Linked DNA regions of Homo sapiens. The protein of the gene in region 1 interacts with the protein of each later gene in a biochemical or structural test. Each region holds a gene or a part of one and is shown on either strand. Other genes may lie near its edges.

Region 1 (7,024 bases):
GTTGCCGCACCTCGCGCACGGACAGCACCAGGTTGAGCTCACGCTCCAGCGTCTGGCGCACCTCCACGCTCATGAGCGAGTCCAGGCCCAGGTCCGCCAGTGAGCTGTCCAGGTTGACAGCAGCCAAGTCGCGGATGCCTGGAAGGGATGCGCCGGGTCGGCAACTCCAGAGGGGGCATGGGGACGGCCTGTATGCGGCAGGGCTGACACCCAGGGGTGCGTGGGCTGTGCATCTCCCAAAGCACCACCACCACAGTGACACCTGCGCCCGCACCCTGGCTCTGCAGATGGGGAAACTGAGGCGCACAGGGGCACGACTGCTATGTCCCAAGACCCTGATGCCAGCAGGGGAAACACCTGGCGCGGCTCCTACTGGGAGTGCTCACCCAGGATGTGTGCCACGGCCTCCACCAGGTCCCGCTGGCTGTCCCTGTCCCTATAGGCCGCAGCCTTCTCAGCCAGCACAAAGCTGCTCAGGACCATGTGGGGCTGGTTCAGGAAGAGGTCCAGCACCTCCAGGCAGGACGCCATGCGCTGGGGCAGCGTGCCACTGACGATCGTGTCGTTGGTGCTCATCGTCTCCACCAAAATGCCCACGTCGCCGATGGCGCCCCACTGCACGGCCAGGCCTGTGGGGGAGGGGGCAGGTGGGCAGAGCTGCGGGGAGGTCGGGGTGGGGAGTGGCCACTGGGAGAGGGTGGGGTGGGCAGGGCTGCGGGGAGAAGGTGGGGGTGGGGAGTGGCCACTGGGAGAGGGCAGGGTGGGCAGGGTCGAGGGGAGAGGGTGGGGCCCACCTGGGAGGCCTTCGTGCCGGCGTTTCTCACAGATACGCTCCATGGCGGAATTGGCAAAGCCGTAGTTGCTCTGTCCCGCATTGCCACGCCCGCAGCTCACAGAGGAGAAGACCACAAAGTAGTCCAGCTCAGGGCACGCCTCTCGGGTCACCCTGTGGGCACGCGTGTCACTCCCCATTGGCCAGCATCCCCAGGAGCCCCCAACGTCCCATCCCCAGGAAACGCCAGAGAGGGCTGTCAACAAACCACCTTGGCTCCCACGGCCCTGAGCCCAGAGCCCGGCAGAGGCGGGAGCAGGGCTGTGCGGTACCCACCTGTCCAGGTTCAGGGTGCCGCTGTACTTGGGCTTGCAGACGTCCTGGAAGAACTCTGGGGTCTGGTTCTCCAGCAAGCCATCTCTCAAGACCTGGGGGAGGCATCCTCAGCACTCCCTGCAGCTCCAGGGCCTCACCCGTCCACCCAGGGTCCCCCCCTTGGTCTTGGGGCTTTTGAGGGCCCCATTTGGGGCCTTCCCTCACCACGGCCAGGTTGAAGACGCCGCCCACGGGCCCAAGCTGCGCCGCCTCGGCAATGAGGCCCCGGGCCCCCTCCAGTGAGCTGATGTTGCTGGTGGACACCTGCACCTGTACGCCCTGGCGCCTCCACCGGCGGACCTGCTTGGCCTGGTAGCCTGCGGGACACAGGACTGTGGGCTGGACTGGGCCAGGGTACGGTCTCTTCCCTACACGCCGGGCTGGGGAAGTGGGGAGCAGCCGCAGAGCCCCATCCAGCAAGCCCCCCACAAGATGGAGGGGGACAGACCCCAGGCACCGTGACAGCCCACAATGGTGGGCTGCAGAGAAGGGCTCAGGGGCCCGGGGCTGTGCCTGGCCCAGGCTGGTCCACAAGCACCCCTGCCGACTCACCTGTCCGGATCCCGGAGCGAGAAGTCAACACGAGCTTCTGCACCCCACGCTGTATCAGCCACTGCGCCAACTCCAGGCCGAAGCCACCCAGACCACCAGCGATGATGTAGCTCTTGTGGGCCGGGCAGAAGGTCTTGGAGATGGCCGACATCAGCTTGGGTTTGGCCCCCTTCAGCACTGCCTCCGGCTCCTCCGCAAGCACCTGCGTCCAAGCAGCACCCACCGGCTCAGGCACTGCCTGGGGACCAGAGCCTGGGGTGCCCGAGGCGCCGGGACTCCTCCCCTCACCTGCACGACGACTTTGCCAATGTGCTTCCCTTGGGCCATGTAGCGGAAGGCGTCCTCCACCTGGGCCCCATGGAACACCGTGCACTTGAGGGGCCGTACCACCCCATCCCGGATGCCGGCCTGCACAAGCGCCCACACCTCCCGCCAGTCAGCACTGCTCTCGTTGAAGAACGCATCCAGTAGGACCCCGTGGAATGTCACGTTCTTCAGGAAGATAGCCATGCCTGCGGGCAGGGGCCGTGCTCACCCAGGGCCTTCCACAGGTCCACCCACACCCATCCATGCCCACCCCCGCCCAGGCGCTGCCGGCCTCACCGAGCGGGTGGTTCTGAGAAAGGTCGAATTTGCCAATTTCCAGGAAGCGACCGTGCGTAGCCAAGCACCTCACGCTGGCCTGCAGCTTCTCTTCCGCCAAGGAGTTCAAGACCAGGTCAACGCCTAGGGGGCCAGAGGGGCCAGACAATCACACCCACTGCAAGCCCAGCCACCACAGTCCAGAGGGCCAGACCCTGCTTCTCCCTGGGCCGGAGGCTAGGCAGGAGGCAGGTGGGGGCTGTGGGGGCCACTCACCCTTCCCGCCCGTGTGCCACAGCACATGCTGCTCGAAGGATGTGTCCCGGGAGTTGGCGAAGCTGGTGCTGTCGAGCTGGGGGAACCTGGCCTGGAGGTACGCCCGCTTCTCAGCCGACCCTGGTGAAGAGAGGAAGCGCGGCTGGTGAGCCAGGGCGGCGGGGCCAGGAGGGCAGCGGGAGGCACCGGGGGCGGGGCCTTACCCACGGTGGTGAAGACGCGGCAGCCCAGACTGAGGGCGATGGCGATGGCGGCCTGGCCCACGCCGCCCGAGCCCGAGTGGATGAGCAGCGTCTCCCCGGGGCGCACCCGCCCACGCACCACCAGCGCGTAGTAGGCCGTGCTGTAGACGACAGGCACCGAGGCCGCCTCCTCCAGCGTCCTGGGGATGCAGCAGGTGGGTCAGCACAGGCCTGGCCGCCATCCACGTGGGGCCCAGGCTCACACCCTCGACACACTCACCAGTTGGAAGGCACATCCCAGAGGAAGTCCGGTGACAGCAGGACAGAGGTGGCCAGGCCCTTGGCAGGCACCAGTCCCATCACACGCTTGCCGCTGGCGTCTCGGCCCGAGAACTCCATACCTAGCAGGCTGTCCTGGGAGGTCCACTTCCCTGGGGGAGACGGCACTGAGCCCCTCACCGCCTGCCCTTCCCTCCCGAGGGGCTCCCAGGCAGGTCCTAGCTGCTGGGGTCTCTGCTCCCCGGCCCAGTCCACTCCCACGGCCCCATGCCACCCATACCTGGGATGGCATCAGGGGACAGCTTGCCAGTGGCCAGCATGATGTCGCGGAAGTTGAGGGAGGCGTAGTAGACCGTGCAGAGCTGGGCGCCAGGGCAGGTGGGCTGGGCATGGCGCAGCGAGGAGCAGACCCAGCGGATGGAGGACAGGTCCCCCCGGGTGAGGGTGCTCACAAAGGCATGTGCCGTCGGCTCCTCAGGCTTGTCTAGGGAAACAGGGAGGTGGGGCTGCTGCGGGGCCTTCGGGTGCAGTCTCCCGGGAGGGGCAGGGCAGTGTCGGGGGCTCACCCTCCTCCAGCAGGAAGTGGCGGAAAGCCCCCCAGGCCCCGTCGCGGTAGACGTTCATCACCAGGTCTCCCTGCAACACCTTCTGCAGTTCTGCGGAGCCCGGGTCCACCTCCGGGACGTGGGAGGTGCTGCTGAGGTTGGAGAGCAGCACACACCTGGGGGCAGAGGCGGGGAGCTCAGGCTGGGGATGGGGAGGCTGGTGGGGAAGGGGAAGTGGTGAGGGGCCGTGCTCCTACCGGAGGCGGTTCCCGCCGGGCTCTCGGCGGAGACAGTTCACCAAGCCCACCACGCCCGAGGTGGCACAGTTGATGGCCTTCAGCCACACAGGCCGGGAAGAGTCTTCGTCAGCCAGGATGCCCTACAGCGGGTCGGGGAGGGTCAGGCCACACTCGGCAAGTTGGGAGGTGGGGTGGGGCCTGGAGGTGGGGCAGGGCCTGACCTTCAGAGACTCCACCCAGCGGAAGCTGGTATCGTCCACCGGCAGGAAGATGGGGCTGTCCTGCGGGGTGGGCCGGCGGCACAGGAAGAGCGTGGAGCCGTAGAAGGACTTCTTCAGGCCCACCAGGCGCAGCGACACCCTGGAGAAGAGGCTCTCCCACGCGTCCTGTGGGGGCGGTGGTCAGCACCCTGCCCGCCTGGCCCTCACCCGGCCCCCACCCTGTCCCCCTGCCCGGCGGCCGCACCTGGCTCAGGATGCCCTGGCCATACTGCGGCTCAGTGGAGGTGAGGAAGGCCACGATGTCCCCGAGGGGGTGCCCCCGGAGCAGTGTGTGCAGGAGCAGAAAGCCCCCTTCTCTCAGGGCAGCCACCATGTTGCTGAGAGCTGAGGCCGGGTCCCCGAGGGCAGCCACAGCACAGTTGCACACCAGGAGGTCGGCGCTGCCCAGGGCGCTGGGGGCAGGGTCTGCGGGATCCCACTGGCCCTGGGCAACGTCGTGCTGCTGCAGCTCGGCCTGGGCAGCCTCCAGGGCCTGGGGGTGGCGGTCGGTGGCCGTGTAGCTCAGCTGCAGCAGGGGATGGGGGCTGAGCAGGCCTGGGATGCGGGAATACAGGTGACCGTGGCCAGCCAGCACCTGTAGGGGGTGAATTCTGGAATCAGCCCCACACCAGGCAGGTGCCCCTGACCTGGGGCTGGGCAAAATGTCCATGAGGCCTCAGTCTGGCAGAAAGGCTTCCCCGTCAACCTGATGACGGTGCCAGCCATGGGCACGCATGGATGCCACTGGTCTTGTCCCTGGGGTCCTGCCTAGGCTGCACCTCTTGGAGCCCACGGGCGGACCCTCCACGGTGGCTGTGTGGACCGCACAGGACACGTGCACAGAACCACACAGGGAACTGGCCGGCCCCACCCACCGCCCAGGGCCCGCCCCGTGTCTGTGCTGTCTCCTGCAACTGATGTCAGGGTGGGTCCTACCATGTCCGGGGCAGAGGCCTGGCTGCCCAGGAGGCACCCACCTCCACCACCTTCATCTTCAGGCTGGGCATGTTCTCCACGGCAGTGTCCAGGCAGGCCTTGAGTGCCGGGGAGTCCAGGAGGCCGCTGAGCAGAGGGTCCTCTGGCAGCTTGGGCCTCTCCTGGGCCAGCACCTGCGCCAGCTCCAGCTGCAGGTTCCCGTTGAGCTGAAGCCTGCAGGCAGCCGACAACAGCCGGGGCAGTTCCTGCTGTGAGGGGTCCCGGGGGATCTGGGCCCCATCCAGTCCGGGCACCACCATCTTCAGCCCCTGCTGGGTCACCTTGGTCTGCAGTGCCTGCACCAGCCCTGGGGAGGGAGGGAGGCAGGCCTGGTGTTCCCAAAGCCCCAGGGCATCTGCCTGGCATGGGCTCTCAGACCCACTCTGTCCTTCTGGGGCCACCACCCCGCTCTGCCCACAGGATGAGAAATAGCTGAGGGTTGAGGAAGGGGCTGCCCACCACTGGGAGGCTGACTCCTGCCCACTGTGGACGCAGTGAGGGGCCGCATTCAGCTGCAGGGGCTACTCTGTGCCTAGCCAAGGTGTGACCTTAGGCTGAATCTGTCATCTTTGCCCCCAAGTACCCTTTCAAGACTGAGGAACAGTGACCAGGGACGAGGAAGGCTGGGGGCTGGGGGAGGGAGGGAGGCCGCCATCGTGAGCTCCGGCCGGAGGGTTGGGCTAGGGTTGCTGACCCCAAAGGGGGCCCCGTGGAGAAGCAAGTCTGGGGTCAACGTGAGGGGAGGCGATCGCTCCTCATCGCCAGAGGTGTCCGAAGCCAGCAGGGCTGGGACCTCACCCTTGCACAGTTGCAGCTCCTCCTGCAGGGCAGCGCGCTCAGACAGGCACCCCTCCTCCGTGTGGGGAGTGAAGCAAAACTTCTCCAGGATGGGCACCTGCTGCTCCTGCTGCCGCCGCGGGGCCGACTCAGTGTGGAGCCCGGAGATGTGGACGCCTCCGGCCACTGTGACCCTCAGCCACCTGCTCACCACCACGTCAGCCACTGTGGGGACAGGCTGGGTGAGTGCGGCATACTTGGGTGGGGGCACTGGGCTGGGGCTGGGGCGGGGCTACCTTGGGCCTTGTCCTGCAGTGTGTACAGCTTCTGCCTGTGGGTGGCAGGGTCGATGTGGATGGCGGTGACACGGGTGGGCAGGTACAGGCCGTGCTTGGCCGAGCCCAGGATGGACATCTGCAGCATGGTGTCCATGAAGCTCACCCAGTTATCCTTCCACAGCAGCCTCCCCGAGTCACCTGCACACAGGGCCTGGTTGGTGCTGTGGAACTCCCAGGTCCCTGGGGCCACCTCCCAGAGCCCACCGGGCCCCTCTGCTCCCTCCCAAGCTGCATGCCTAGCTGTGGGTGCCCTCTGTGGTCCCCACAATGACGACCGCCCTCCCCGGTGGCTTGGGCAGCAGTGTAGTCAGTACCCACCTTCCAGGCTGGCCTCCAGGATGCCCTGGAAATGAGGGCCGTAGTCGTAGCCACGCAGACGCAGCTCCTTGTAAACTTCAGCCTGGGCCAGGAAGAGGGGCTCCGTGGGGTTGGGGGTGGGGCTTTCCGGGTGGTCGAAGAGCCTGGGGTCAGGGTCATCCCACTGGTACACCTTCCCTGTGGAAAGGGAGGTGCGGAAGGGCCTGAGGACGGGCGGCATGGCCAGCGGGCACAGCCTCCGCAGCTCCCGTGCCACCGGCCCTGCTTACCACTCACTACCAGGTTGCCGTTCTCTGACACCTCGAAGGCACGGGAGGCCTCCAGGAGCCGTACCTCCAGGGACACTGTCCCTGCAGAGCGGGAGAGTTGGAGATCAGAGGGCAGCACCCGCCCCCCAGCTACCCCCGCCTTGGTCCTGGGGTACCCCTCACCAGTCTTGGGCAGGATGGTGGCCTGGTGCAGCACCACATCCTCAAACACCACAGGCAGCTGCTCGACGCCCAGGCCCAGGGCGCGGGCCAGCGTCTTCCACACTATGCTCAGGTAGCCAGTGG
Region 2 (7,024 bases), on another chromosome or scaffold:
GGATCGCCCGAGCCCAGGCGCTAGAGACCAGCCTGGACAACGTAGCGAAATCCTGTCTCAAATTTTTAAAAAAGAAAACAAAAACAAAAACAGCAAAGAAAAAAGTTAAGTCTCTGAATATTGTCCGGAGACTATGTGTGTGACTTACACGTTCACTAAGGTTGGTTTGAAGGAGTGGTTGTGCCTTACGGGTATACAGTGAATTTCCTCTTCTCTAGAGTTTTGGCCACACAGCCAGAGCCCACTGGTGGTATTCATGTGGGAACTGTGAAATCTCCTGCATCTTCGGTGTTGCCAGAAAAAAATGTGCTTGTTGTACTTTTCCACATTAAGAGTCTCATTCTATTTGAATTCTTTGAAGCTTAAGCTGTGAATGCTCTCTAGGGCAACCCTCTTTATAAAAACTTAATTTTCAGTTATGCCATACATGGACAAATGTATTTTCTTTAAAAAAGAATAGAACATTGTAGATTAAGTGAAAGTCCCATCCTAATTGCCATCATCTCCTGTCTGTACCTGAGAGGTGACCATTGTTCTCAGTTTGGGATGGACCGTTTTAGTTCTGTTTTCACATTTTATTCATATATGTACTCAGGAAACATATACTTCCTTATATAAGTGTGCTCATGTTTCCCTAGCGTAGTATATTCTCTAGCTTTCTTTTGTTCCTTTTATTTTTATTTATTTATTTTTTTGAGACGTAGTTTCACTCTTTTGCCCAGGCTGGAGTGCAGTGGTGCGATCTTGGCTCACTGCAAGCTCCACCTCCTGGGTTGACGCCATTCTTCTTTCTGCCTCAGCCTCCTGAGTAGCTGGGACTACAGGTGCCTGCCACCACACCTGACTAATTTTTTGTATTTTTAGTAGAGATGGCATTTCACCGTGTTAGCCAGGTTGGTCTTGATCTCCTGACCTCATGATCTGCCTGCCTCGGCCTACCAAAGTGCTGAGATTACAGGGGTGAACCACTGCGCCCAGCCACGCCTGGCCAATTTTTAAAATTTTTTGTAGAGACAGTCTGGCTGTGTTGCCCAGGCTGGTGTGGAACTCCTGGCCTCAAGCAATCCTCCCACCCGGGCCTCCCAAAGTGCTGGGATTTCAGGCATGAGGCACCGAGCCTGGCTGGATTTTATATTGAAACTATTCCTGTCAAAATATCTGATTGACCGGAACATTCTGTCCTCTGACTATGCAGGATAAGGGTTTTTTTCAGGGCCTGTTCTTAGGTCATGAAGCTCAATGATTGTGACATCCAGCGAGAACGGCAGTGAGTGTGGTAAGTGTGCTTGGTCGTCCAGCCTGATTTCTCGGGATCGATTAATACATGGATAGAAATATGTACAGATGACCACGGCGTATCCTGGCTCTGCCGTATACAGTCCTGCGGCCCTACATTGACTCTTTAGAACGAGGGTGAGTCACGCTTCACTTGCGGCTCATCCCATGGCATTCCATACATTCCATTCGGTTCGGAAGCTCCGTGCTGTTTGTCCGCGTTGACCTGGCGATGACTCCTTGAGTGTCATTGAGGCAGGTCCAGGGCCTTTGCTGACCCTCGGGGCTCCTTCACCCCTGCCCCGAGCCTTCCCCTCTTGCCTGGGCGACTTCCATGCACCCTGGGCTCCCATCAACCCTTACCTGCAGCTGCTCGCTCATGTCAGGTCTGTTCTCTGTGTGAATACGTTGGTCAGAATTCATTGCGCTGTCACTTAAAGTTTATACTTTTTTTTTTTTGAGATGGAGTCTCGCTCTTGTTGTCCAGGCTGGAGTGCGATGGCGCGATCTCGGCTCACCGCAACCTCCTCCTCCCGGGTTCAAGCAATTCTCTTGCCTCAGCCTCCTGAGTAGCTGGGATTACAGGCATGCGTCACCACACCTGGCTAATTTTGTATTTTCAGTAGAGACGGGGTTTCTCCATGTTGGTCAGGCTGGTCTCGAACTCCCAACCTCAGGTGATCTGCCCACCTTGGCCTCCCAAAGCACTGGGATTACAGGCGTGAGCCACCGCGCCCGGCTGGTTCTGGTGATTCTTGTGCCTCAGCCTCCCCAGTAGCTGGGATTACAGGCGTGTGCCACCACACCTGGCTAATTTTTGTATTTTTAGTAGAGACGAAGTTTCGCCATGTTGGCCAGGAAGGATGATCTCAAACTCCTGACCTCATGTGATCCACTTGCTTTGGCCTCCCAAAGTGCTGGGATTACAGGGGTGATCCACCCCACTGGGCCTATTTATACATTTTGAGCAGGGTGTGGTGGCTCACACCTGTAATCCTAACACTTTGGGAGGTTAAGGCAGGAGGATCACTTCAGGCCAGGAGTTTGAGGCCAGCCTGGGCAATAGAGTGAGACCCCATCCCTATTTAAAAAAAAGATTTGTGTCTGGGCCTGGTGGTTCACGCCTGTAATCCCAGCACTTTGGGAGGCCGAGGTGGGCGGATCACCTGAGGTCAGGAATTCAAGACCAGCCTGGCCAACATGGTGAAACCCCGTCTGTACAAAAATCCAATAATTAGCTGGGCATAATGGCGAGTGCCTGTAATCCCAGCTACTCGGGAGGCTGAGGTGGGAGAATTGCGTTAACCTGGGAGGCAGAGGTTGTAGAGGTTGTAGTGAGCCGAGATGGTGCCGCGCTGCAGCCTGGTTGACAGAACAAGACTCCAGCTCAAAAAAAAAAAAAAAAAAAAATTTGTTCATTTTATGGTGATTAAATTATGCCCCACAGTATTGTTTGCATTAGGGACAAAACCTTCTGCCCCATTTCGCTCCCTTCCATGACCCTTTTTTTTTTTTTTTTTTTTTTGAGACAGAGTCTCACTCTGTTGCCCAGGCTGGAGTGCAGTGGTGCCATCTAGCCTCACTGCAACCTCCATCTCCTAGGTTCAAGTGACTCCTGCCTCAGTCTCCCCCGTAGTTGGGATTACAGGCGTGTGCCACCATGCCCAGCTAATTTTTGTATTTTTAGTAGAGTCGGGGTTTTACCATGTTGACCAGGCTGGTCTCGAACTCCTGACTTCAGGTGATCCGCCCGCTGCAGCCTCCCAAAGTGCTGGGATTACAGGTGTGAGCCACCGTGACTGGCCATGACACATATTTTGGTAGTAAACTCCTGATGAGCAAACTTATTTTTATTTTTTTTACAAGTTTATTTTGTTTATATAGTTTTGTTACTTTTTTCTTTTTTTAATTCTGGCTCTCTCCAGAAAACAGAAACCTATTTTTCTTTAACCACAGTATCTAGAATACTATCTGCTATGTAGCAGAGTCTCAAATATTTGAATAGAATTACATTTTTATAAATTTTTGTATTATATTTCTTATGTGATAAGACTTGACAACACTGCAAATATGTTTTGTTACTGGTCTTTAAACTTGCTCATCCTCTCTCTCTCTCTGTCTCTCTCTCACACACACACACACGCACACATACACAATTTGCAAGGTAAAACGTGTCAATTTGAAGAAAGAGGAACTAACTGAATCACTGTTATGTAGAACAGATTTTGCCAGAATTTGTGGTTAGCAAGAAAGTGATGTGTTCCGGGTAGGGGAATTCTGTTTTGGTATTATTTTGTCTTTCCTGAGAAAAGCATCACAAAAAGAGATGTTTGCCCATCCTGTTTGCTGGGGTAGTGGGAAGAGACCGGGGGTGATGGTGGTGCTGGCTGGACGTGGGTGGTTTCACAGGACCTGCTGTGTCTGAGAGGAGCCATGCGGTGATTAGAAGCTTGGAGGCTGCAGGTAGGAGGCACAGAGCCCGAGAGTGCATGGAGAGCCTGGCTGTCGGTCTCCAGCATTGTCACTGTCACCTTTTTTTTTTTTTTTTTTTTTTTTGGAGACAAAGTTTTTGCTCTTGTTGCCCAGGCTGGAGTGCAATGGTGCGATCTCGGCACACTGCACCCTCCGCCTCCCGGGTTCAAGCGAGTCTTCTGCCTCAGCCTCCCGAGTAGCTGGGATTACACGTGTCCACCACCGCACCTGGCTAATTTTTGTATTTTTAGTAGAGATGGGGTTTCACCATGTTGGCCAGGCTGGTCTCGAACTTGGAACCTCAGTGATCCCCCCGCCTTGGCTTCCCAAAGTGCTGGGATTACAGGCGTGAGCCACTGCACCTGGTCCATTGTCATCCTCTGAGAAACTGGAGCGCGGCCACGCTCTGCATATTTCTACTATAGAATCACCAAAAAAAAAAAAATCACATAACCAGACTTAAAGGGCAGAAGTGCTTTGTGAGAAGTGTTTTTGGGAAAATATTGGCATTAAAATATCAGGTAGGGTCCCTTTTGGGAGGACTGAGGAGGGGTGTGTGTTCAGCTCCGGGAGGATCTGGTCTGCCCTTCCTGCTGTTTTCTGTTGACTGGGTGGGAGGAGGCACTTTGCTGTTTCTGTTGTGTGTAGCAGGGGTTTAATGGGGGTCTTTTTAGCTCCCTATAAGCATTTTGAAGTTTGTGTGTTATGGAAATCTGAAGTGAAATTACACAAAGTTTGATTAACCCCAGGAAGTACTGTAGGGGCCGGAGAAACTCAGGTTAGGTAATATCTTTCAAGAAGCCCAGTTACGTTATTTTCCAGGAATCTTCCAAAACCTGATTTGTGCGGGTGTCCACCAGGAGCCTGATGAGTGAGTTGTCATCAGACCCAGTAATGCGCTGTTGTTGTGTGAATTGGTGCTTTCAGAAAATTTTGTTATACAAGTGATACAACCACAATCGCAAAAATTTCATAGACAAATCACCTGTAGTTCCACCCCTTTTAACAGCCGTTGCATTTTAATATATTTCCTTTTTTCCTGTGCATTGCTTTGTATGTAGTTATCATCATAGTGAATATGCGTCTTTATAGTTAGTTCCTTTCACTTGACATTTTTCTACACTGCTAGTTTTCGTAATTTTCTACCTAGTGTCTGTATAATAGTGCATTAAGGAATATAAAGTTGTGCTTCGAAAGTGCTAATATGATAAAATTTCAGTTAAAAAAAATTTCAGTTAGAGATATTCTTGCCACATGTTTTCCAGAAAATGATTTGTTAAATGGAATCCATATTAAAATTTGTCCCGGAGGCTGGGCACGGTGGCTCACGCCTGTAATCCCAGCACTTTGGGAGGCTGAGGTGGCTGGATTACAGCCTGGCCAACATGGTGAAACCCCGTCTCTACTAAAAAAAAATACAAAAATTAGCCAGGCTTGGTGGCATGCGCCTGTAATCCCAGCTACTCGGGAGCCTGAGGAAGGAGAATTGCTCGAGGTTGCAGTGAGCTGAGATCGCGCCACTGCACTCCAGCCTGGGCGACAGAACAAGACTGTCTCAAAAACAAAAAACAAACAAAAAAATGACTTGTCCCGGGTTGGGCACAGTGGCTCATGCCTGTAATCCCAATGCTTTGGGAGACCCTACAGAGCCTGATAAGGGATAAGACTGAATGAAAATCGAGGAAGATGCCGTACCAATTAGGCTGGTAGTTCCCTCTGGCGGGAAGAAGGCACCCAGATCTGTCAGGGATGCAACCAGAAGGAGCGTTTCCAGGGTGCCGCTGTCTTTATTTTTTATTTTGTAGAGACAGGGACTCACTACGTTGCTGAGGCTGTTCTTGAACTCCTGGGCTCAAGCAGTTCTCCTGCTTCGGCCTCCCAAAGTGCTGGGATTACTGGTGTGAGCCACCGTGCCTAGTCTGGCTGTCTTTAATTCTTGGCCTGGATGGTGGTTACACGTGTTTGGTAAATAATTTTGTTCGAGTGTTCATAGAAGTTTTATAGTCCTTTCTGTGCATGTGTAAAGTATTTAATAATACAAAATAATACAATACAGGCCGGGCATGGTGGCTCACGCCTGTAATCCCAGCACTTAGGGAGGCCGAGGCAGGCGGATCACCTGAGGTCAGGAGTTCGAGACCAGCATGACCAACATGGTGAAACCTCCTCTCTAATAAAAGTATAAACATTAGCCAGGTGTGGTGGCGGGTGCCTGTAATCCCAGCTACTTGGGAGGCTGAGACAGGAGAATCACTTGAACCCAGGAGGCAGAGGTTGCAGTGAGCTGAGATTGCACCACTGCACTCAAGCCTGGGCAACAGAGCAAGACTTTATCTCAAAAACAAACAAACAAACAAAAATACAAAATGTTGGGGGAAAACCTGAGGTTCCTAAGATAATTTTGTAGGACTATCTGGACTGACTGCCTTGGTATTCATGCCCCAAGTCCCGTTGGATTTACCCAGAGGGAGGTGCCTTTAGGGTGAAATCCGTTTTCTTGCCTCAGTGTCTGCTCCTAACAGAGGGCACTGCGGTTGATCAGCAGAAGAGCTCCCCTGCCTCCAGCTGTTTCTGAGGCCTGAGTGCTGCTGGCTCAGCCCGGTGCTCTGTTGAGTCCAGCTGTTTCGGTGACCCACCGGCAGCACAGCAGGAAGGAGCACCCAGACCCTCCGGCGTCTGCAGGAACAGCAAGGCTTGTCTGGGAACCTCACTCTCAGCCAAAAGCCAAAAGCAGCTCTCTGGCCAAAGCTGTCAAGGAGAGTCAGATGATATTCATTACTGGGCACAGTTCATTATCTTCAGGACCGAAATTTCACCTCCCAGCTCCTGAGAAATTCCAGTCCAGGCTGGGGGTGGACCTGTCTTTCAAGAACCGGCCACTTAGTGCCCGTGTTTTGCACCAAAAGGAGATTTGAAATTGCATTTTCAGCTCTTCAGAGTCTGGGGAGTGTCTCTGTGTGTGCAGTTTCTTATCTCAGGACGGCATGTGCACGGTTAGCCTTCCTTCCTTGGCTAGATAGGAAAGGAGGGACACTCCTGGAAGCTTCTGCGAAGTTTAAAGTGACCCTGTGTTATGTGCAAATGGGCGTGCTTCCCTCCAAGGTGGGCTACTCAGTGAGGGGACCGTATTCCCATCTGCCCCTGTCCTTGGGGAGATGGAATTTTTTTTTTTTTTGAGATGGAGTCTCGCTCTGTCGCCCAGGCTGGAGTACAGTGGGGCAATCTCCGCTCGCTGCAAGCTCCGCCTCCCGGGTTCACGCCATTCTCCTGCCTCAGC

The links. The genes of interacting proteins can lie anywhere in the genome.
Region 2: the proteins of FASN (region 1) and SNX8 form a complex in vitro, tested with the Homo sapiens proteins (one study listed by BioGRID).

The regions. Positions count from the first base shown.
Region 1 is NC_000017.11:82,081,215-82,088,238, forward strand, and holds part of FASN (fatty acid synthase), read right to left. Parts: coding exon 6,902-7,024; intron 6,821-6,901; coding exon 6,740-6,820; intron 6,648-6,739; coding exon 6,471-6,647; intron 6,291-6,470; coding exon 6,111-6,290; intron 6,040-6,110; coding exon 5,836-6,039; intron 5,345-5,835; coding exon 5,040-5,344; intron 4,658-5,039; coding exon 4,268-4,657; intron 4,189-4,267; coding exon 4,024-4,188; intron 3,943-4,023; coding exon 3,821-3,942; intron 3,740-3,820; coding exon 3,585-3,739; intron 3,503-3,584; coding exon 3,299-3,502; intron 3,171-3,298; coding exon 3,020-3,170; intron 2,940-3,019; coding exon 2,761-2,939; intron 2,678-2,760; coding exon 2,558-2,677; intron 2,426-2,557; coding exon 2,303-2,425; intron 2,212-2,302; coding exon 1,988-2,211; intron 1,902-1,987; coding exon 1,700-1,901; intron 1,465-1,699; coding exon 1,313-1,464; intron 1,201-1,312; coding exon 1,109-1,200; intron 947-1,108; coding exon 795-946; intron 630-794; and 3 more. UniProt on the Homo sapiens protein: Fatty acid synthetase is a multifunctional enzyme that catalyzes the de novo biosynthesis of long-chain saturated fatty acids starting from acetyl-CoA and malonyl-CoA in the presence of NADPH.
Region 2 is NC_000007.14:2,304,442-2,311,465, reverse strand, and holds part of SNX8 (sorting nexin-8), read left to right. Parts: intron 1-1,392; exon of another isoform or gene 1,393-1,413; intron 1,414-1,509; exon of another isoform or gene 1,510-1,609; coding exon of another isoform or gene 1,610-1,661; intron 1,662-7,024. UniProt on the Homo sapiens protein: May be involved in several stages of intracellular trafficking. May play a role in intracellular protein transport from early endosomes to the trans-Golgi network.